3 linked regions of the Homo sapiens genome follow. The protein of the gene in region 3 interacts with the protein of the main gene of each other region in a pairwise test. Each region holds a gene or a part of one and is shown on either strand. Other genes may lie near its edges.

Region 1 (5,544 bases), on a different chromosome or scaffold from region 3:
ACCCCCTGGCAGTCAGAGGCGCTGGAGAGAACCGGAAGGCATCCAGTGGGGAAGGGAAAGCCTTCTGGAAGGTGGGAGCAGGGTGAGCTGCAGGCCTGGGGCCCCACTGGAGGGGCAGGCTGCGTGGAGGAGCCAGCACCTGCTCAGGGAGGATGGCTGTGAGGACTGGATGACCTCCAAGGCCGTATGCTGGAGAAGCCACTCAGCAGCATACTCAGTCCTTGTGGGTGCTCCTGGGATGGGACCAGCCTCCTCCAACCCTGAGGCCTGATTCTCTCTTGCTCTTGGGGCAGAAGCCACCCACACTAGCTGGGCAGAGCTTTCACCCTGGCCCTCCAGTGAGTCGGTGGGCCTCCACTACTTTCAAAGCTGTGTTTGGGCCCTGGGGCCACCTCTGTCCTTTCCATCCCCATCCCTGCTCAGTGTAAACCCAGGAGACCTGATTCCTCCAGCCCTACCTCGGGGCTGACCAGGCTGGGGGTCCAGTGAAACTACTGACACTTTTTCACCCAGGGCTATGCCAATAATGTGGCTGTTTACACACCACTTTCCTGCCTCCTCTCTGACCTGCACCTGTGTGGGAGCCGGGGTGGGAACCAGGAGAAAGGGGTGAGGCCTCCCGCTTCCCACCTGCATCACAGGTGGAAGCTCCTTCACTCCAGGGATGCTCGGCCCTGGCTCTGTGCCAGGCCGCAGAGGGGCACTTAGTATGACTGCGCTCAGCCTCGGATGGGAGCACGGGTGGGGGGTGGGTAAGCAGATGAGTCACCAGGCAGTGAAGACAGGATGTGGCCCATGTCGGGGGTTGGAAGAGGTCTGGGTGGGGCACCCAAACCCAACCTATGGGGGGGCTTTGGGAGGGGGTGATGCTGTGCCAAGTTCTGGGAGCTGGCACCAGGGGTGGCTGGGCAGGCCTTGGGGCAGGCATGAGTCTGGCAGGGTCTCCTAGCTGCTAGTATAGGGTCTCCTAGCCACTAGTATAGGATCCTGGGCTGCAGCAGAAAGCTTTAGGTCACTGTCTTGGACTCCTCATACTCTGTGCTTTACAGAATGGGAAACTGAGGCACACAGAGGTTAGATATCTTAGGGCACCAAGCCAGGGAAGGGAGAAGTCAAGTTTGAATACAGCAGCTTAGTTTAGAGTCCCCGCACCCTAACCACTGCCCTCCCCAGCTACACTATGCCTGCAGAGAGCGGTGTGCTGGGGCTCCTGCCTGGTGTGGGAGTGCCAGCCTGGCTGGGAAGCAGCTGATGGAGATCCCTGGGGGCTCCTCTTGCCTGGCAGGTGCCCCCGCTGCTGGCCTCATGCTCCTCTCGGGCCTCCAGTGGCCCAGGGGAGGTTGAGTGGGCATCTTCCTGGGATGCAGGGGAGTTCTGAGCTCTGACGCCGGGCGTGTTAGGAGATAGCAGGCCGTTAATGACCATCCCAGCCGAATTCCTCACTGTGCAGATGAGGAAGTGAGCTCAGGGAGGCTGAGTGTCCCAGGCCTGTTGCCAGATGAGGCCACGCTGAGACTGGAGCCAGGGAAGGTGCAGCAAGCCTTGAGGCCCTCAAGAATGCAGCCGAGCCAGGGCCCTGCTTGCCTGGCCCCAGAAGCTGTTTTGCTCAGAGCTGGATTAGGAGGGTTGGCAAAGGGAGCTCTGGGTGCGGCCTCAGGCCCTCCAGTACTTCTCTGGGCAGTTCGGGCTTTGGCCTTCAGTCTTCCAGGCCAGGCGCTCTTCCTCCCCAGCCTCCAACTCATCACCTCTCAGGCCCCAAACCAGGCCTGGGCTAGGCTGCAGCCTGCCTCCTGGGGACTCACTCCACAGTCCCCAGGTCAGTGGTCCCCAACCTTTTTGGCATCATGGACTGGTTTCATGTAAGACAATTTTTCCATGGATGGGGGTTGGGGGGATGGTTTTGGGATGAAATGTCCCACCTCAGATCATCAGGCATTAGATTCTCATAAGGAGTTCACAGCCTAGATCCCTCGCATGCACAGTTCATAGTAGGTTTCATGTTCCTATGCGGATCTAATGCCACTGCTGATCTGGCAGGAGGCAGAGCTCAGGTGGGAATGCTTGCTCCCCACACTACCCTGCCCCACTGCCACTCACCTCCTGCTGTGTGGCCCGGTTCCTAACAGGCCACCCATCAGTACTGGTCCGTGGCCCAGGGTTTGGAGACCTCTGCCCTAGGTAGTAATAAGAGTGGACAGCTGTTATATGTAAATACTTGTTCCCCGATGCTGGAAAGAAATAGCACTAAAACATAAATTTAATTCTTTCAGCAAGGCAATTTTACTTTCTGCAGAAAGGGTGCTCATCGCAGATGGAACAATAGTGAGAGGACACCTGAACAAAGGAGGGAAGCAATTGTTAGCCCTTATGCAGTTTGTCCCTGCTACTGTGTCCTATGTCCATTGGCAGAAGCCAGACCGCACAATCTAAACTAAAACCCGATTGGCTGTTTAAAATTTTTCTAAATAGGTAAAAGTAATGGAAGGATAAAGGAAAAGAGGAAGTTGCTTACGAAAGGACTTAGAAAAGTAATAATATTCCCAAATAAGGAAGGGGTATAGGCTGTGAGCTGGGACATGCCTGTGAGCACGTCCAGCACAGATATCTTGGTTAAAGTATAAGGACATAGAACGTACTATGTGCCTGTGAGCACGTCTAACAGTTACATAGAATAGGGCTTGACAAAGAGTTATTAGCATAAAGCAAGGAGGTTTGAAGGAAGTTCGTCTTTAAAAGAAACCATTATTTCTAACACTTACGATTTATTCTTTAACAAGAAGGGAAACTTTCAAGAGGAACTTTTACTTTCTACAACAGCTGACCTCTGCTGAGCGCTTACTACATGCCAAGCACTGCTCTGAAAGTTTAACATACCATTCACTCATGTAATCCTCATATTAATGCACATTTACTCACGTGGAAGCCGAGTTCCAGGGCATTTGTCACTTACCAAATGTCACATAGCCAAAATTTGAATTTGAGCCCAGGTAGTCCAGCTCTGGGACCCTGCTGTGGGCCTTCCTGCTGGGCCACCTCAAGGGCATTGAAAGCCAGCCCCACCCCACTGGGACACAAGTTCAGAGAAGGGCAGAGCTGGCTGCCTGTCCAGTGCTTCTTTCACTCCACCACCTACAGCTGGCCGCTGAGGGAGCATTCACATGTGACTCTGTCCCCAGGGACTCCGATCTTGCCTTAAAGTCCTCCAGGGCCTCTGAGGATGGGGGCACAGCCTTCACCCTCACCCCCTCTAATCCAACCTCTAGTCAATAGCCAGGATCAGATTCTCAGAGAGGGGCTGCCCTGCCCAGTGCCACACAGCTTAGTGCTGGAGCCTCAGGGTCAATGCTGCAGGGGTGGCCCAGTGTCCAGGACTGTGTTCAAGACATCAGTCAGAGGTCACAACATCCCAGGCCCTAGACTGAGCCTAGGGGTCACCATGTTGATACCTTAGAAATGTTTGGGAGGTTCAAGGAAGCTGGAAACTGGGTTCCAGTCCTGGCTCTGTGCCTCTCTGAGTCTCATTGCAAAATAGAGGTCACCAGAAGGATTACTGGATGAAAAATGAGGTAGCATTGCAGACGTGCATGGCACGTACACTCTAGGTTGCTTCCTAGACAGAAAGCTCAGTTCGAGGCTGGTGGCATCCATGCTGGCAGCAGCCAACTGTCTGCGACAGAGTGAGGAGGGGCATGCCACGTGAAGGACCAGCATCAGAATGACATGGGAAGAAACTCTCACAATAGCAGAAGAAAGAGCTCCTTCAGCCTAACATGTAGAACTCAAGTCTTCTTGTCGCGCTTCTGTCCCCTCGCCCCTCCTCCCCCACTGAGAACTAGCTTTTACTGAGCAGTTATTACATGCCAGCTACCTCGGGTGTGTCAGCTCATTTAATCTTGACAACAGCTCCACGAGACACCCTCAATATCACTGTCCCTGTTTTCCAGATGAGGGGACAGATTCCTAGGGTGTTATGTAAGTGGTCCCCGGGGCTTTAGAGGCAGGTTTGCACCAAGGCCCATTCTCCCAGAGCCGGATCCTTCTCCTTCCCTGGGATACAGCACCTCCACCCTGCCAGGCCACCCATGTAAAGGCAGCCAATTCAGAGCCACCTCTTATGCCTGCATCTCCCCAACAATTCCTGCTGGGAAACCACTCCTCGTATGGTGTCATCTACACCAGTGGGTTTCAAGCTTGAGAAGAATCAAGTTCTACAGGGCTGCTTAAAACACAGGTTGCTGGGTCCTGTCTCTCAGAGTTTTTGACTCAGTCTTGGTTGAGAATTTTCAGTTCTAGAAGCTCCTGGGTAATGCTAATCCTCCTGTTCTAGGGGCCATAGTCATTGTCCATACTGGTGCTATCCAATAGAAACATAATGTGAGCCAAATAGGTAATTTAAAATCTGCTTGTAGCCATGTTAAAAAAGTAAAACAGGTAAAATTAATTTTAATAATATATTTTATTTAACCCAACATATTCAAAATATTATCATTTTAACAGGTACCTATATATAAATATCAATTTTTTTTTTTTTTGAGACAGGGTCTGGCTCTGTCACCCAGGCTGGAGTGCAGTGGTCCCATCACTGTTCACTGCAGCCTCAAACTCCCAGGCTCAAGTGATCCCTCCACCTCAGCCTCCTGAGTAGCTGAGACCACAGGCATATGCCACCATGCCTGGCCAGTTTTTTTGTTTGTTTGTTTGTTTTCATTTTTTGTAGAGAAGTGGTCTCCCTATGTTGCCCAGGCTGGTCTTGAGCTACTGTTCTCAAAAGATCTATTGCCTCCACCTCCCAAAGTGCTGGGATTACAGTTGTGAGCCACTGTGCCTGGTGACCTTTTTTTTCCATTCTTTTTTGGTATTAATCTATGATATCTGGTGTGTATCTTACACATAGCACATCTCAATTGGACTAGCCACATGTCAAGTACCAGAAAGCCACATGTGGCCAATGGCTGCCACATTGGATAGCTTACTCCAGACCCTCCAGTGAAGGAGCAGGTGGTTGGCCACGTGCTTCCAGGCAGCGCTGCCCACCCAGGAAAAGGGCTTTCAGCCCTGGGACCTGGAGCCTTGGTATGCAGCCTGTGTTCCCTTACCTGATCACAGGATAGCTGGGAGCATCAAATGAGGTGGTGATGGGACAGCTGTGGGCTTGGTGCCTAGGGAGAGGGGAGACTGTTGGCTCACAGATGGGAACGGCAACTGCTCTGGAAGTGCTGCTCCTGGGGTAAGCCATGGTCATGTTGAGCCAGAGATCACTGGTGCTGCCCGATGTGTCAGAGAAGACGTATGCCCACTCCTCTCCTTAGCCGTATTTGGAGAGGTTCACGCTGACCACTGCTCCCTGATGCTGCTCTACACCTGCTTTCTGTGGGGCTCCAGGCTGTGCCTGGAGCTGTTCAGGACCTGGCTCTTCCCTCAAGGAACTGTGACAGTAGGTAGTCAGGCAGACATGAGCAGGGCAGGAGAGGGCCCTCCCCCAACGAGGAATGTCAAGTGGCCATCAGATGATGGTCAGGCAGTTGATAAACTGCTTCTCTCAAA
Region 2 (7,585 bases), on a different chromosome or scaffold from region 3:
AATTAGACATAATAGGTGAGGTACATAAAATAGTATTAAAGTTCTTACCTAAATACAAATATATAGTGTTTGATTTCATAGAGCTGTGAGTTCACTTGACCTGATAAACTAAACTTAAACTAAAAATCATAGTGCCTGTGATGTGAAAAATGCGGCTGGGCCACAAGTATGGGGAAAGCACAGGGTACAGATGTTTCTGAGATTTGGAAAACATTTGGTGTATATAAATGCAGAGCGAATCATTAAAATAGATATGCCGAAATAGGAAAATAATTGTTTCAGATTTAGATTTTTTTTTACTAATTAGAGTTATATTTCAATTTGAAAACATTGATTAATATAAATACATAGAGCTTTCCCCATGGATTTTCAGAAAATGACATCAGGAAAAAGACTGTGAGAAAAATTTATGTAAAAGATTTCCGTATATTAAATATTTCATTGATTGTAGTGTACATACATGATTATATTATGTATAAGTGGATATTGATATATTGCAAATAGAGGAATAAATAAGGAATTTTTTAATGGGTTGGAGGAATAAAATAGTGGATTTTTTAAAATGCCAACTATGTTAGATTGAGCTTTGCTTTAGAATCTGATTATAAGGGTCATGTTCACACTAAAAATAATTGTCTTAGTCTGATTGGAAATCTGTTTTACTATTAAAAAGGAGAAACAAGTCAATGGAAATGAGTGCATTGGGCGTCATCCGAGACTGGAACTCCAGTGACAGGGCGAACTTTGTCACTTGGAATGTTGTCCTAATGGGTCTCAACTTCTCAGTGCGAGAAAGAATTTGGCTTCTATTGAATGCTTGGGGGACAGCCCCTGTTTGTAGGTTGTCATCTGAAAAAATTTTCTTCATTCAAGATTAGGGTGGCACAATCCTCAAGGTAAAACGACTACTTCCTTCTATTAAGTTTTTTAAATGCCACAAACTGAAATCGTGATTGGTTGTGTCAGAATGTGGCACGTGCATCTGCCCACCAGCTGTGGAATCCTCTGCAGCATAATTTAGTATGTTTTGACAGAACTCTTTTTTAACCTGTGTTGGATGGATATGCCTAGGAATTATGTAATAACTCTTTGAATTCCTGTTTCAACTTAATGTCTTACTTGTATAGACTGTGGGCTTTTGTGTTTGTTATGGTGCATTAATGTCTGCCAATGGATGATAGTGTAGTTGAGTGTCTATCTAAAAAGAGACTAAGGTGGATTTAGTAGTTTAAATACAGCTTCTGAACTTTTCATTTGTTAAGATATTTTCATTTGTTCTGCAAAAGTAGCCAAGATAATGGTGTATATTAAGAGAAGATCAAAGTATTTTTAACCTTCTAAAATAGTGCATTTTCTTTTTAATTCAAGACTTTGTTATGCTCTTATTAAGGTGTTAAAAAGTCTGATTTTTGTGATCATGGAAACTATTGAATCCAGTGCTGTTTGTCATAGCATTTCAAATTGTGTTTGTTGCTTCAAGTAAAGCGGAAGGTTGCTTTGTCTTTTATTTTTTTCTTTACTAGCCTTTAAATTTTAAAATTTTTATTTATATTTTGAGACATTCAAAAGTATCTGTTGTATACCTGTGCATTTATTTTCAAATATTAAGTTTCCTTTTGTGAAATATTTTAAATTCCATCTTTCTTCTTAAAAAGACAATTCTATAAGTTTCATTGCTCAAAATGGTTGTTCCCAAAAGCATAATATTTAAACTTTATAACAAATATCCTTAGCTTTATTTACAGTATAAAATATATAATTAAAAAATTATGGAAAGGGAGTTTGAAGCCTACAGTCAGTTTATATTATTCTGTAGATATTTTATAGGCGGTCGTGTCAGTTGCTGTTAAATAAAATTAGTGAATATGAGGCCTAGAAGTTGCCCTCCTTTGAGAACCTTAGTGCTTTACATATATTATCTCAGTAATCTTCAAAGAGTAACCAAGAAAACTGGACAGGTAAGCAACAGATTCAAGAAGAAAGTTAACTTATTGAAGGCTATATTAGTAGCTAAAAGTAGTAGAAATAAAACTAGGAGTAACAGAAGTAGTAGTAGAAGTAATAGCAACACTTAAAGCACTTTACAGGTATTAATTCATTTAAACTTCGCAGCAGCCCTTGAGATAGCTGCTCCTTATTTTACAAATGAGGAAACTAAGGCATGGGAGGACAAGTAACTTACCTCAGGTCACACAGCTTATGCATTACAGTTAAGTCTCTGCATTTTACCGCTAAACTATATTCAAAATGTATAAGTAATTATGAGAATTGCAGTTTCATTTGCCTGCTTGGCAATTCTCATAATTACATTTGTTCATTGTTGGGGGGGAGGCCATCAGATTTTTTTGATAAGACTCGGTTTTATATCTGTTTGTGGGCTAGTTGAATTAGTTTTAAAAGTAAATGTTTAATATTTAGCTAAATAAACCAGCTACCTTCTTTATACAATTGGCAGTTATTTTTAGCTTAAAATTTTTAAACTTGATTAGTTTTGATTAGATCAAGATTTCTGGATTACATGCAGTTATTTGTGCAAAAGCAGCATCTGAGAAAAAAATTTGTACACACAAAAGTTCTGATTTTTTGCAGGTATATCTTTCAACTATATTTTCAAGTATATCCTTTCTACTACACTTATTGGATATTCTTGTTCTACTTTTTTCACAGATCACTTTGTTGTAATAATTTGGGCTAATTCAGAAGTTGGAAAGTAACACCAAAGTTAAATGCATTTTGTTAAAGAGATTATTAAGATTATAGAAAGCAACAAGCAACTTGTTAATAGAACAAAATATACAATTCAATTTACCTTTACTCTTTATGGTGTAGGGAATGAAGAACTGTGTCTTGGTGTTGGGTAGTGGGCCTTTTATGCCTGTGGGCATTTGGTATCGTTCAGCGTAAAACACTCCATGAACCAAGTTCAAGGATACTAGCAGCAAAAAGGGTATTTGTGGCAGCATATTCTCAGATGGATTCTGAAAAACAGAAAAGAATAACTTTATACAGCATTGTTATTAACCTATTTTTTTATTCTCATGTTTCACAGATGAGTTCTTTATACAGTTATCTACTTTTTTAACCTATCCTATATATTTTTAATATGTGCCATAAATAAATGAGAGATCATTTTTTAGTTATGTGAATATATGTCTTAGTTATTTTTGGAAGCTATACTCAGGTAATCAAGTGAAAATAAAATGATTTACCTAAAGGAAAAGAAACAGAAATTAGGATTGGATGTCTGTATTAAATAATCTAGGATCTTTGACATAGCCTGAAATATCTAATAGTTTCAAAATACACTGAAATTCGGATTAGGGCAAATTTTTACAATATGGTTTTATTGGGACTATCATCCACAGACTGATGCAAAAAGAACTTTTGGAGTGCATTTTAGTAGAAACCCATTTTTTAAATCACTTTAATACTTCTAATACTTGAGAAAACTCAAGTATTTAAATCTTTAAAGTTTCTTTCCAAGCAAGTTAACATGGAAGTCCACCAGTAAGCGTACGCTTACCTGCGTGCTGGGAGTTCCTGGAGATGGTGCCTTGGCAGCTTTCTGAAGCTTCCTCTGCCCAGATGAGCAGTGCAGAAGGTGCCTCTCAAGAGCTGTTCAGTGGTATTTATACTGTTTTTCCCTTACTACATGAGGTTACCCTGAGCTTAAGCTCCTCCCCTCAAAGTTGGTAAGCACTAATTATGGTGGAAAGTTCTATTGGGTAGGCACACAAGATCGGGCTGGGCTCTCCTTTTCCTTGTTTTCTTATTTAAAAATAAACCCATTGTCTTAAATATATATTAATAGTTTTAACCAAGGACCGTCTTTGTCTGTGATTCTATTTTATTAATTAATACTCTAGTGTTCAGGCTGGTTCACGGTGGAATGATGATACCCCCTTTTTATTTTTGAAAAGCACATTCTTATGTTAATTGGTTGATATTATATAATATGTGGTAGTACATAAAAGCGGATAAAATTCCTTGAAGGGGGTACTGGATTTAGACCATCATCTAAATTATTGAGTTATTACATAAAGTTATCAATGTGTCTATTAATATTCATAAATTTTTGTGAAAATAGCTGACCCCAATTCTTAATTACTTTTAGGCTTTTAGGATTTAGATCCCTTATTCACAACACTACGCTATATTCAGTAAATGACTTCAGATTTTCTTGCTTAAATTTGGGTTTACTTTAGAGTTGCAGTAGAGTTTGCAAAAACCCCTTAATTTGATAATCTCATATTATGTTAATTTACATAAGATTGCTGTGTTTATTTCAGGAGAAAAAAATTTTCAAACTTTGCTTTCAGCTTAAAAAAAATATTATTGGCTTAACTTGCAGTTAGGAATCATCCCAATTAGAAACACTTTCCCTCAAAGGTGGAAGTAAACACTATTGTTGTCAATTTTGGTAGTTAGACTCTGTTTAACAATATTAGGAAGCCTTTAAAATCAGTTTTTAGGATCCTAAAAAATCTAATAAAGGTGGGAAGTTGAGAGTCCAAATTTTTCATCTTATTTAATTTCATCGTTTTGAATCAAAATCAAATTGACTATGCAGGTGAACTGGTTGAGGAGGACAATTCCATACACAGGCATAGACACATCATTTTTCTACCTCCACAGAATTAAAGTAGTATGGATTCAGGACTAATCAATAATTGAAATAATTGAAAGTTTGACCAGTGAATGAACTAAAGATTTGTCCTTTTTCTTTTCCCTTTCTCTCCCCTTCAAGCAATTTTCTGTATTTTAAACAAAGCCTTGTATAGCCCTTTATGGAAATGTAAATGGATAAGGCATCTCATTGCCTCTCTCCTCTTGCTTGTAAGCATTTTGTTGATTGCCATATTAAAAAAATTTACATTGTTGTATATATCTCTGTATAATACTCATAGATACATATAAAATATGTTTCTTATAGCAGTTTAGAATAACAAAATAGGAAAGTTTATAATTCATCATTTGGAAATTATATATGGAATAGCTTTTGTAATTATAATATGTACTCTGCTACATCTGTAGGAGACTACAAAAGATAAGTGAGAGAAAACACCTGCCTTTTGGCTTATGGCCCATTTGGACACAATTTTGAAAAAGTAGGTGAGGTAACTTTATGGATGCTTTTGAATGCTAGGTTGAATTTGTTTTGAAAGGAATTATTAAAATATATATTTTAATATTTTGTGTGTATATATGGTGATACACATGCACACACATACTGCTATTTGCTTATAATTGAGACTGATACCCTGTTAGTTATCACTCGTGAACGTTCAGAAGACTAATTCTCAGCTCTTAATACATAGTGCTATGCCCCTGTGTATACCATTTGTTCATCTGTGGCTATTGCAACAATTTTCAGAGCCTTTCACTTTAACCTCTCTGGGTGTCTGTTTTTTATCAACACAATGAAAAGTTTGGACTAGGTGGTTTCTAAGCTCCTCCCAGTTTTAAAATTAGATTATTCCTGTGCTTGAGGTATTCTGCTGTTCTCCATGGTCAGATGGTAGACTTGGCTCCAGTTAGTACTTATTAGAGACACAAAAAAATCCATACCAGGAGGTTGTATGTCTTCTTTTAGGGATATGTAAATATATGTGGGTATTTGTCATTCTATACTCCCCTTTAGTTTTGGAAAATGTGGTGTCCTTATTGAATAAGCCTTGGACATTCAACCCTTTTTGCAAATAGTGTACTTATTTCAGCACAAGGAATCTGACTGCTGTTTGCTTTGTTAGTCACATAAGAAGCACTGTCTTGTCCAAAACAGATTGTAGAATCAGAATATTTTCTAGCCACACCCCACCCAATTGTGTATTTAAAACTATTTTTACTCTGGGTGTTTACTTGTAGCTGTTTGAAGTGACTAGTCTGTGGCTTTATGAAGGAAACCCATTCCACTCAAAACAGAGAGCCATACTCTTTAAACTCTATAACCTGAGTAATTTTTTTAAATATCAAATATGAATAATGATTTTTTTCACATCTGGCAGTTAGCTACTATTAAGCTTGCCTATTCATTTGTACATCTGTGGATCGTTAATTAATTCACCTTATGTTTCTTAAGTGCTTCTTAAGTGTTAGACATTAAGATAAATACTGGGTGAATAATATATATTCTATACCCTTAAAGTGTTTACACAGTGGTTCTCAGCCTCTTTTCCCCACTCCTGCTGTCCTGAGGGAAATGCACAATTCCTTCAGCCTTTGAGGTTCATTAAAATAGTGGTGGTTCAAAGACTATATTTTCATGAAGCTCCTCAGGTGATCATGATGGCCTCCTAAGTTAGAATGTATAGTCTGATATCAGTGTTCTATTACCACCTTGTTAATATTAGTTACATTGGTTTTTGTTATTTGTGTTCATATGCTTTTTAAACTTTTTTACAGAAAACTTGTCTTTTATAGTAGTGAGAATAGTTACAATAAATGCCTATATGCCTGTCATTCAAACTGATCTCAACTCGCTGTCACTCAATTCTCTTTTCATTCACCACTCCTTCAAATTTTGAAGTAAATCCCATATATTGTACCAATTTACCTGTGAATATTTTGGTATATTTTTCCAGAAGAGAAGGAGTCTTTTTTCTTTAAAACAATGTCATCATCGTATTAAAAAATCAGCCATTTCTTAATATCATCAAATCCTGTAGTTCACATACATATATAGACATGTATATACACAAACATATGTATACACATGTCTATATTATATAGAAACACATACATACATATCCACATATATTTTTTATTGATTGATAAATTGTTTGTTGAAATTAGGTTGATTCATATATCCCTGTTGTCATGGTTTGAATGTATCCCCCAAAGTTCATGTGTTGGAAACTTAATTCTTAATGTAACAGTTTTGGCAAGTGGGATCTTTAAGAGGTGATGAGGTTGCGAGGACTATGCCCTCATAAATGGATTAATGTTATTGTGGGAATGGGTTAGTTGTTGTGAGAGTGGGCTTTATATAGAAGCAAGCTCGGCCCCCTTTTGCTCTCTTGCACACTTTTGCCCTCTTTTGCCCTTCTGCCTTCTGCCATGCGATACTACAGCATGAACGCTCTCTCCAGATACCGGTGCCATCCTCTTGGACTTCCTAGCCTTCAGAACTGTGTGCCGAATAAAGCTCTGTTCATCATAAATTACCCCGTCTGTGGCATTCTGTTATAGTAGTGTAAAATGGACTAAACCTGTTACTCTAGGTGTCTTGTGTCACTTTTTACTCCCTTGCAGTTTATTTGTTGAAAAGCCGTGTCATCTGTCTCATGCAATTTCCTGTGATCTAGAATTTGTTGTCACTTAACTTGCTACTGTGGAGATTGGTAGTTAAATCTAGAGTTTTCATCTGATTTCAGGTTTGAGATACACACATTCACTCACACACAGATACAGCACACACAAATACATTTTTTGGCAAGAACCCTTTACAGAGAGTGGTATGATATACTTCTGTTAGGAAGCCCTTAATTGCTGGTGTCTCTTTGGTGTTACTGGACATTGGTAATTGCCTACAGTCAATATTTTATTATAGGTTATAAAATGATGATATTCTGATTTTATCATTTGT
Region 3 (8,348 bases):
TGAACACCTGGAATTACTTCTGACTTTTGCCCTCCTACTCCTTCACTATCTCATCAGTTATCAAGCAGTGTTGAATTTTTCTTTATCGCCTTTGTTGGCGTTCTTCTTTTCATTTCTTCCAGCCATCTCCAACCTGTTAGGGAGTTTAGGAAATTGTTCAAAGACTGATTAATAAGATGGTATGGAGAGGATGTTTGGTTGGGGATGTGGGAATGTCTGAATCCTGTCTTGGCCAGCCATCTCTACTCATCAGGAGTGTGGGGAGTACATGTGCAATGACACACCAGGGAAAGGAACACTTTATTATTAGCTGGGTATGAACCACAATGCAGAAGTCAGGAAAGATAGGCTGGATTCTGGTCATCTCTGTCTATCCTCCCCACATCAATGCCCAAATTTGAGTCTTGGAACTTTTCTTCCGAGTGGGATAGAGGCACACTAACCAGAAAAAGTAGAGAGAAAGACAAATCCACAGCCTCTTTGCCCCAAGCCCGGGGCCTTGCTAAGACTTTTTCTGTGGGCCATAGCCTTAGGGCCTGGCTACCTTGTGGGAGAGGGAAAGAGAACAAGCTGGCTGGGCTGCCTCTGAGAAAGGCAAGGGCAGCCCTTGTTACCACTCAGAGTATGTTGAAGAACGGGAAAGACGCAGCACTTTCTGTTGAACGTGTTATCTTTTAAGGGCTCCATCCCAAGAAAATGTTATTCCATATTCTCCAATTTTAGTAAGATTTTCTTCCTTTGTGTGTGTTTGGTGGTGGGGAGATGAAATTTCTTCACCATCCTACCTCCACCTTGGGGGAAGGAAGAGGGTGGGGAGGGAGAAGCCTTGAGCGCCCTCTAGAGACCAGAAGCCCAACTCACTCCCTGGTGAATCTACACTCCTATGACCTTAGTGCTTAGCTCAAAATTGTCAACTGTCTATTGCCTACTAAGAACCAGTTCCTTGGCAGGCATGGTGGCTCAGGCCTGTAATCCCAGCACTTTGGGAGGCCGAGGTGGGTGGGTCACCTGAGGTCAGGGGTTCGAGACCAGCCTGGGCAACATGGTGAAACCCCGTCTCTACTAAAAACACAAAATTAGCCGGGCGTGGTGGCGCATGCCTGTAGTCCCAGCTATTTGAGAGGCTGAGGCAGGAGAATCGCTTGAACCCGGGAGGCGGAGGTTGCAGTGAGCCAAGATCGCACCATTGCACTCCAACCTGGGCAACAAGAGCGAAACCTCATCTCAAAAAAAAAACAAAAAAACACAATTTCTAAGGAGGCCATTAGAACCCTCTACAGTCTGGCTCAAGGCACCTTTTTTGGTCATTAGAATGACTTTAGGATAGTAGCAGATAGGGAAAGCACAGAAAAATGAATGCCAAATTTAATCATCCAGCGAACAGACTGGCTGGATCTAATCAAGAGGGGAAGGAACCTGGGTGAGGTTACCAGAATTTCACCTACTTCATAACCAAATCAACAGATCCAACAAGAATTAAATAAGGCATCACGGGAATCTAATCTGTAGGGAAGGGTGTGGGGAGACCCTTGTGGAAACAGCATCTATGTGAAAGGGACTTGATGTGTTCACAGTGGTAGCAGAAGAATCTCTGTGTCTTGACTCTTAGCCAAAAATCTCCAGCCAAAACACAGCCTCCCCTGTTCTCCTGCAAAGGTAAGCCCAGTCCGTTTGGGGCAGTAACCTCAGTTTGCTCAGAATGGTAAATGTCATTTAATCCTAAGAAGGTTCTGCATTAAAGATGAGGATAGTAAAATAAATCAGATCTGCAGTATTCATACTTTTGTGTTAACCTTGGTAATATTTTGTTTAATTTTGTATTTTCAATGTTTGTAAGATTTAGTATTTATCATATTAGAGAATCTGACAAGTTTCACGAAACAAGAGCCTTACTAAGTTTGATGTTCTCTGCCATTTTCTATTTCTTTAATGAAATGTTGGTAATGACCCACTAAGTTACTTATGTGTTTCATCAGTGGGTACTGGCCTGAGACCCTGATAATGGTTAAAAGTACAACTCTGAGGTCAGGCTGATGACTTTCAGATCTAGCTTATTGTCTGGGTTTGGGCAAGTAACCCCTATATGTCCTTGTTTCTTCATCTGTAAAATGGGATAATATTAGTAACTACCCAGGCCGGGCACAGTTGCACACCTGTAATCCCTGCACTTTAGGAGGCTAAGGTAGAACGGCTTGAGCCCAGGAGTTGGAGACCAGCCTGGGCAACAGGCATCTGCCTGTGGTCCCAGCTACTCAGGAGGCTGAGATGGGAGGATTGCTTGAGCCCAGGATGAGACTGCAGTGAGCTGTGTTTGCGCCACTGTATTCCAGTCTGGGAGATACAGTGAGACCCTGTCTCAAAAGTTAAAAAAAAGGTAGTACCTACCTTGTGGGCTCTACTTGATAATTAAATGAGAAAGAAGATAATGTGCATAAAGGCTTCCACTAGGGCCTGACGCATCGTGAGCGCTCAATAAACGTGGGGAGTACTGGGTGTGATGACAAAGGGTCTAATGCACCCAATCTTGGGAGATGAAAAAATGCTGCCTGGAGGCGATGGTATTAATGTTGGGATCTGAAAGAATGGTAAGAATTATTCAGGTGAGGATTCAAGTAAGTGCATAGATGGTGTAGAGAGAAATGAAGTTATGGGCAAAGGGAACAGCCCTTGCAACAGTTGTGAGGTGGCACAATTTCCAGGCTTAAATGACCTGAGAGCTTCCCAGTTTTGAGTGTAGCCTGAGAAATATCTGTGGCAGATGAGGTCAGAGATGGCAACAGGGATGAGATCACCAATGGCCCTGTAGCCACCTCAAAGAATTTTAGACTTTATCCTACGTGTTAATCAGATCTTTTTAAGAGTCTTAAACAGGGAAAAAACATGATTTTCTTTCTTGAAAGACCATTCAAGCTGTAGTGGATTTGGAGAGGGCAATTTCGGTGGCAGGGAGACCAAGAGGAGTCTACCGCAGTGTCTCTAGGAGAGATGACAGTAGCCTGAACCAGAGTAAGAACTGACAGGGAACAACAGTTTTAAAAATCTAATTGGGGCTGGGTGCAGTGGCTCACGGCTGTAATCCCAGCACTTTGGGAGGTTAAGGCAGGCAGATCACTTGAGCCTAGGAGTTCGAGACCAGCCCGGGCCAACAAGATGAAACCTCATCTCTACTAAAAATACAAAAATTAGCCGGGCGTGGTGGTGGGGACCTGTAGTCCCAGCTACTGGGGAGGCTGAGGTGGGAGGATCCTTGAGCCCAGAGAGGTCGAGGCTGCAGTGAACAATGATTGCACCACTGCCCTCCAGCCTAGGTAATAGAGTGAGAATCTGTCTCACAAACAAACACATCTAATTTAACATGGGGACTCCAGAGACAGAGGAAAGAGTAATGGATCATTTCCAGGTTTCTGGCTTGAGCACTTGGGTGGCTAGTGTTGGCACTCTCCTAGAAAACACTGGAGAAAAAGACATTCAATTTTTGGATATGTTGAATTTTGAGGTTAATAGAATCTTGAAAATTAAAGCTTCCTGATTTTGTTAATCCGTTTTCTGACACCCTTTAGCAATTCTTCAATGCAATGCTTTTCACATTATTATATGCATAAGAATCACCAGGGGTGTGGAGATGGGGATGTGAAAATGCAGGTTCCTAGGCAAACAAGCCAAGATTCTGGATACCAACTGGGTCCCAGGACTCAAAACAATCAGCCTGAGTAATTCTGATGGAGGGAGTCTCCTGACGACACTAAAAAAACAACAAAAACGACCCCTCTGCCGGGCATGGTGTCCTGTAATACCAGCACTTTGGGAGGCTGAGTCGGGAGGATCGCTTGGGCCCAGGAGTTCGAGACCAGCCTAGGCAACATAGGGTGACCACCCACCCCCGTTTCTAAAAGTAAAAAAAGACCCCTCGTGTGTCTCCACCGTTAGGTTGTTTTCCCACTGTCCACCCCTCCCTACTTCTCAGGCACCTGCTTGGGGGCCCCTATTGCTTCGAATAAGCTCCGTGGGAGCCAGGACTTTGTCTTGCTAACAGGTGCATCTTCAGCGCACTCAGAACAATATCTGGCACAGCACGAGACACCTAGAAATGTTCGCCGAACGATCGAATGGCTGAATACATTCATATGTTGCTTTGTACAAAAACTTGCTTTCAAATATCTGGGAAGAGTTAGAGATAGGAAAGCAGAGGTCATTTCAAAGAGAGAGAGTGAGGATACCACCGGGAAGGCAGCGCCGAAAAAACCAGAGGGGAACCACTTGCCGATCCCCCAGGCACAGTCTGGAGGTCCCAATTCCCGCGGTAGGGGGGCGAGAGATGCCACTCGTCTGATCAGCAACCATTTTGGGCCCGCTTGCGCCGCTTCTCCGGGGCGTCCGCGTTGTGCTCATCCAGTTGCTTTTGAGGTTCCGGCCCCCTCCAAACCTCTGAAGCGCTCCGTGCACGCGACGCGGCGGCGGGGTAAGCTGGAGCCCTCGCCGCGAGCCCTCTCCGCTGCCTGCCCGCAGCACAGCCGCGCCGACCTCCTCATCATGGCGGCGGCCGGGCGGGGAAGCCGGGCCGTGCGTCGCGTGCGTGCCCTCTCCCTCCCCTCCCCCTCCTCGGCGGCGGCGGCGGCGGCAGAAGCGGCAGCGCTCGCCATTGCCGCTGGTGGCAGGAGGCTGCGAGGAGCCGGCGCGGTCGCAGTCTCCACGGCGCAGGCCCACGGTAGCGCAGCCGCTCTGAGGTGAGTGCCCTACCGCGCAATCTCCAGCTATTTCAGCCCCGGCGCAGCCGCAACACGCCGCCCGCCCGCCGGCCGGCCGGCCCGCCCCGCAGCCGGCACCCTGCCGCCCCCGGCTCTGGGCCTGGGCCCCCGCCGGATTCGGCCCGCCTCGGGCGGGGGGCCCCGGCCCGGCCCAGCCAAACCGCCACCCCGAGGATGCGCAGGCCGCACTAGGCCCCAGGCGTCCTGGCGGGCTCGGGAGGGAGGCGCTGCCCTCCCGAGAGCCCCAGGGTTCCGGCCTCCTCCGCCGCCTGGGGCTCTCGGGGCCGCGGCCTTCTCCCCGCCGTGGAACCCGGGGCCCGGCCTTCCCGCAGCTCGGGAGCGGGAGGCGCGGGAGAGTGCGCCGGGCCCGGGAGCGGGAGGTGGGCGGGCTGCGCGGGACCGGAGCCGCGGCTCTCGGCTCGCCCCCTCGGCCCTTCCCGGCTCTCGTACGCGGGCGGGCGGGCGGGCGGCGCGGTGGGGCCGGGCTGGGGCGCGGGAGCCGCTGTCTCCTGCGGGAGAGGAGGCTGGCTCTTTGGGCGACCTCCGAAGCTTCCCTCCTGCCGGGGTGGCGTGGGCTTGTTACCCAGGTAGACTGGGGGACGCTGGAATATGGCGCGTTGCCCACCTTCTTGCAAGTTAGGAGGTGGCCGGGGCGGCAGTTCGAGGAGGAGGGCGCAAAGTCCTTTTGTACGCAGAAATAAGGAGCGACATTGTGTTTTCTTCCCCAGCTGAGATGTGCCCGCGGAGGGGCCGCGGTTCTTCCTGTGCCTGGGGTGGTGGTCCCCTGGGTGAGGGAGAGGGGGAGTGGCACGCCCCTCCGAAGGAACAGAACCTTTTGCCACTGGAAAGACAGGGGCTCTGAGATGGCCGTGTGCATGGTATTTTCCCATATCCCCAGACCTTTTCGGGTTTGTCATTGAATGTTGTGCACTCCATCGTGCAATGATGTCTGCTGCCTCTCTCACCTGTTGTGTCGTGGCTGCTGGTCCCAAAGTTTCTGCAGTGTATTTGGCTGTGCCCACCAGAACTTGAAGTTGTTTAAAAATCTTAATACTTGGGGGGCTTCCAGTGATATCTGCTCCAACCAGTTGGAGGAGCTGTTGCCTGCTCTCCATTCTTCTTAAGCATTAGATTAGAATATATTAATTGCTTATTTTAGAGCTGGTGTCAATCGTGCTGATTTCTTTATGTGGTCAGAGCAAAATTCACATTTTTTTAAGTGTTCAGAGACTGCGTATTGAGAGACGCATAAGGAGAAAGGTAGTGTGAGTGAGCCTGTCAGCTTGGGCAGTGTTGGGCAGAGCTTTTGTCCCGGGACATCATCTGTGCTCACAGTGATCCTTTTTCCCATTCCATCTCAGCCTAGCCTTTTAAAAAATTATTTTTCCTTTGGGCTTGACCAGTAAGTAATTGGGAAAGGGGGGTGCTGGAGTCTTGGAGATGCTGTTTGTGTGTGTGTGTGTGTTTGATTCATTAGTATCCCGACTCCCTAAAATTGTATTTGACAGTTCTTGACAGGTTACCCCGTAAGACAGTGAAAATATGACTAGTTCTCTCCGTGCATCTGAGTGTAATTTCCTTATTTTATGAGTCCGAAAGCAGACATAATTATCACATGCAATGTAGAATATTTATTCTTAACTTGGATCCTAAATTGTGGGCAGAATTTTTTTGTGTCAAGGGGTTTTTTTTTCTTTTGATAGGACTTAGTGGCTTTCAACAGGGCCCATGACCAAAAAAAACAATAATCAGATTAAGAAAACTCTTTACGGCCGGGTGCGGTGGCTCACACCTGTAATCCCAGCACTTTGGGAGGCCGAGGCGGGGTGGATCACCTGAGGTCAGGAGTTCGAGACCAGCCTGGCCAACATGGTGAAAGCCCATCTCTGTTAAAAATACAAAAATTAGCTGGGCGTGGTGGCAGGCGCCAGTAATCCCAGCTGCTGGGAGGGGCGGGGGCGGGGGCTGCCGAGGCAAGAGAATCGCTTGAACCTGGGAGGCAGAAGTTGCAGTGAGCCGAGATGGAGATCGCGCCATTGCACTCCAGCCCGGGGGACAAGAGCGAGACTTCATCTAAAAAAACAAAAACAAAAACTCTACTTAATCTTTTGGCCCATCCTTATTTGAAGTCCTTTAATTTCCTCACACAGCCTCAAACTCGACATATAGGAGGGAAAATGACTTTTTGCTTAGTAGTCAGTGGTCATAGTCTCCTGTAACAAAGAAAAGTTCTTATCCCCAAGTCGGCAATTTTTGTGGAAATAGTTCTCTTTTTCTTTTTCTTTTCTTAGACGGAGTCTCACTCTGTCACCCAGGCTGGAGTGCAGTGGTGCGATCTCGGCTCACTGCAACATCTGCCTCCTGGGTTCAAGCGATTCTTCGGCCTCAGCCTCCCGAGTAGCTGGGATTACAGGCGTGGGCCACCATGCCCGGCTAATTTTTGTATTTTTAGTAGAGACGGGGTTTTGGCGTGTTGGCCAGGCTGGTCTCGAACTTCTGACCTAAGGTGATCTGCTGGGCTTGGCCTCCGAAAGTGCTGGGATTACAGGCATGAGCCAATGCGCCTGGCCCAATAATTTTCTTATAAAAATATGTATTTGTGTGTGTGTGTGTGTGTGTGTACATACATATATATAATTTTTTTTTTTAAGTTAGAGATGGGGATCTTGCTATGTTGCCTAAGCTGGCCTTGAACTCCTGGGCTCAAGGAATGCACCCACCTCAGCCTCCCCAGTAGCTGAGACTATAGGCAAGTGCCACCGTGCTGGCAGTGGCTTCATAACATGTTTCAAGGAAATTTAGCTCCTGTGTTAAGAGAAGGAGCTATAGAAGTAGAAGATAATGAGGGCCCTTGTCCAGATATAGAAGGTTTAAAGGAGAAAGGATTTCAGGTTTCCTTCTGAATTCCTGTGTATGTCGTTAGGACCCCAAATTGTAGGTTTTTTGTTTTATTAAACGATAATTATGCACTTGTCTAATTTTGTTAGGGAACCGAAGGCCAACTTCCCATGATTTAAATACCTGAATTTGCATTGCCTGCACACTGTAGGTTCAACCAAATCTCTGGGTTGTCTTTAGAAGCATTTTATGTAAATAATCACGAATGAGTGACTTGTTTTAAGGGAAATTTAAGCTCCTGTGGTCTGGGATTAAATTTTTATGCCTTTTCTTGTATGGAATAAGGCATTCAGTAAAGTTGAAGAATAATAACAATGAACAGTAATTACTGAAATTAAAATTTTTCCCTGAGTATTTGAAAAGGCATGCTGATTTTTTGGTTTCTGGAGGAACTATGAACTGTCAGTCTTTAGAAACAGTCTACAGTCCTACCTCAACAGGAAGTTAATGTATACATTCAGCTTCTGTCAGATGTCTTTAGACAAGCCTGTTGCTTCATGCTGAAGCAGGCTTATTCATTCACACAGTGCCACTGTGAAAAATTGAAGGGTGAGGGGAAACTCCCTGGGCTGTTGAATTTCACAAATGTCTACTTTAACCTCAAGAGTTTAGATGCGCCCTTTCTGGGCCAGTAATCATCTAGGAAATGGGATATCTGAATTTAGATGTTTGTGTGTGACTGTGTGATGCTTATTAATATGTATA

What was found. Proteins that work in one complex are often made in the same cells at the same time.
Region 1: the proteins of NRF1 (region 3) and HHIPL1 interact in binary tests that used the Homo sapiens proteins (3 or more experiments, as listed by UniProt).
Region 2: the proteins of NRF1 (region 3) and COL10A1 interact in binary tests that used the Homo sapiens proteins (3 or more experiments, as listed by UniProt).

Annotation. Positions count from the first base shown.
Region 1 is NC_000014.9:99,676,129-99,681,672, forward strand, and holds the end of HHIPL1 (HHIP-like protein 1 isoform a precursor), read left to right. Parts: 3' UTR 1-4,441; downstream 4,442-5,544.
Region 2 is NC_000006.12:116,122,530-116,130,114, forward strand, and holds the start of COL10A1 (collagen alpha-1(X) chain precursor), read right to left. Parts: upstream 3,604-7,585; 5' UTR 3,524-3,603; intron 2,979-3,523; 5' UTR 2,964-2,978; coding exon 2,810-2,963; intron 1-2,809.
Region 3 is NC_000007.14:129,607,101-129,615,448, forward strand, and holds the start of NRF1 (nuclear respiratory factor 1), read left to right. Parts: upstream 1-4,619; 5' UTR 4,620-4,724; intron 4,725-8,348. UniProt on the Homo sapiens protein: Transcription factor that activates the expression of the EIF2S1 (EIF2-alpha) gene. Links the transcriptional modulation of key metabolic genes to cellular growth and development.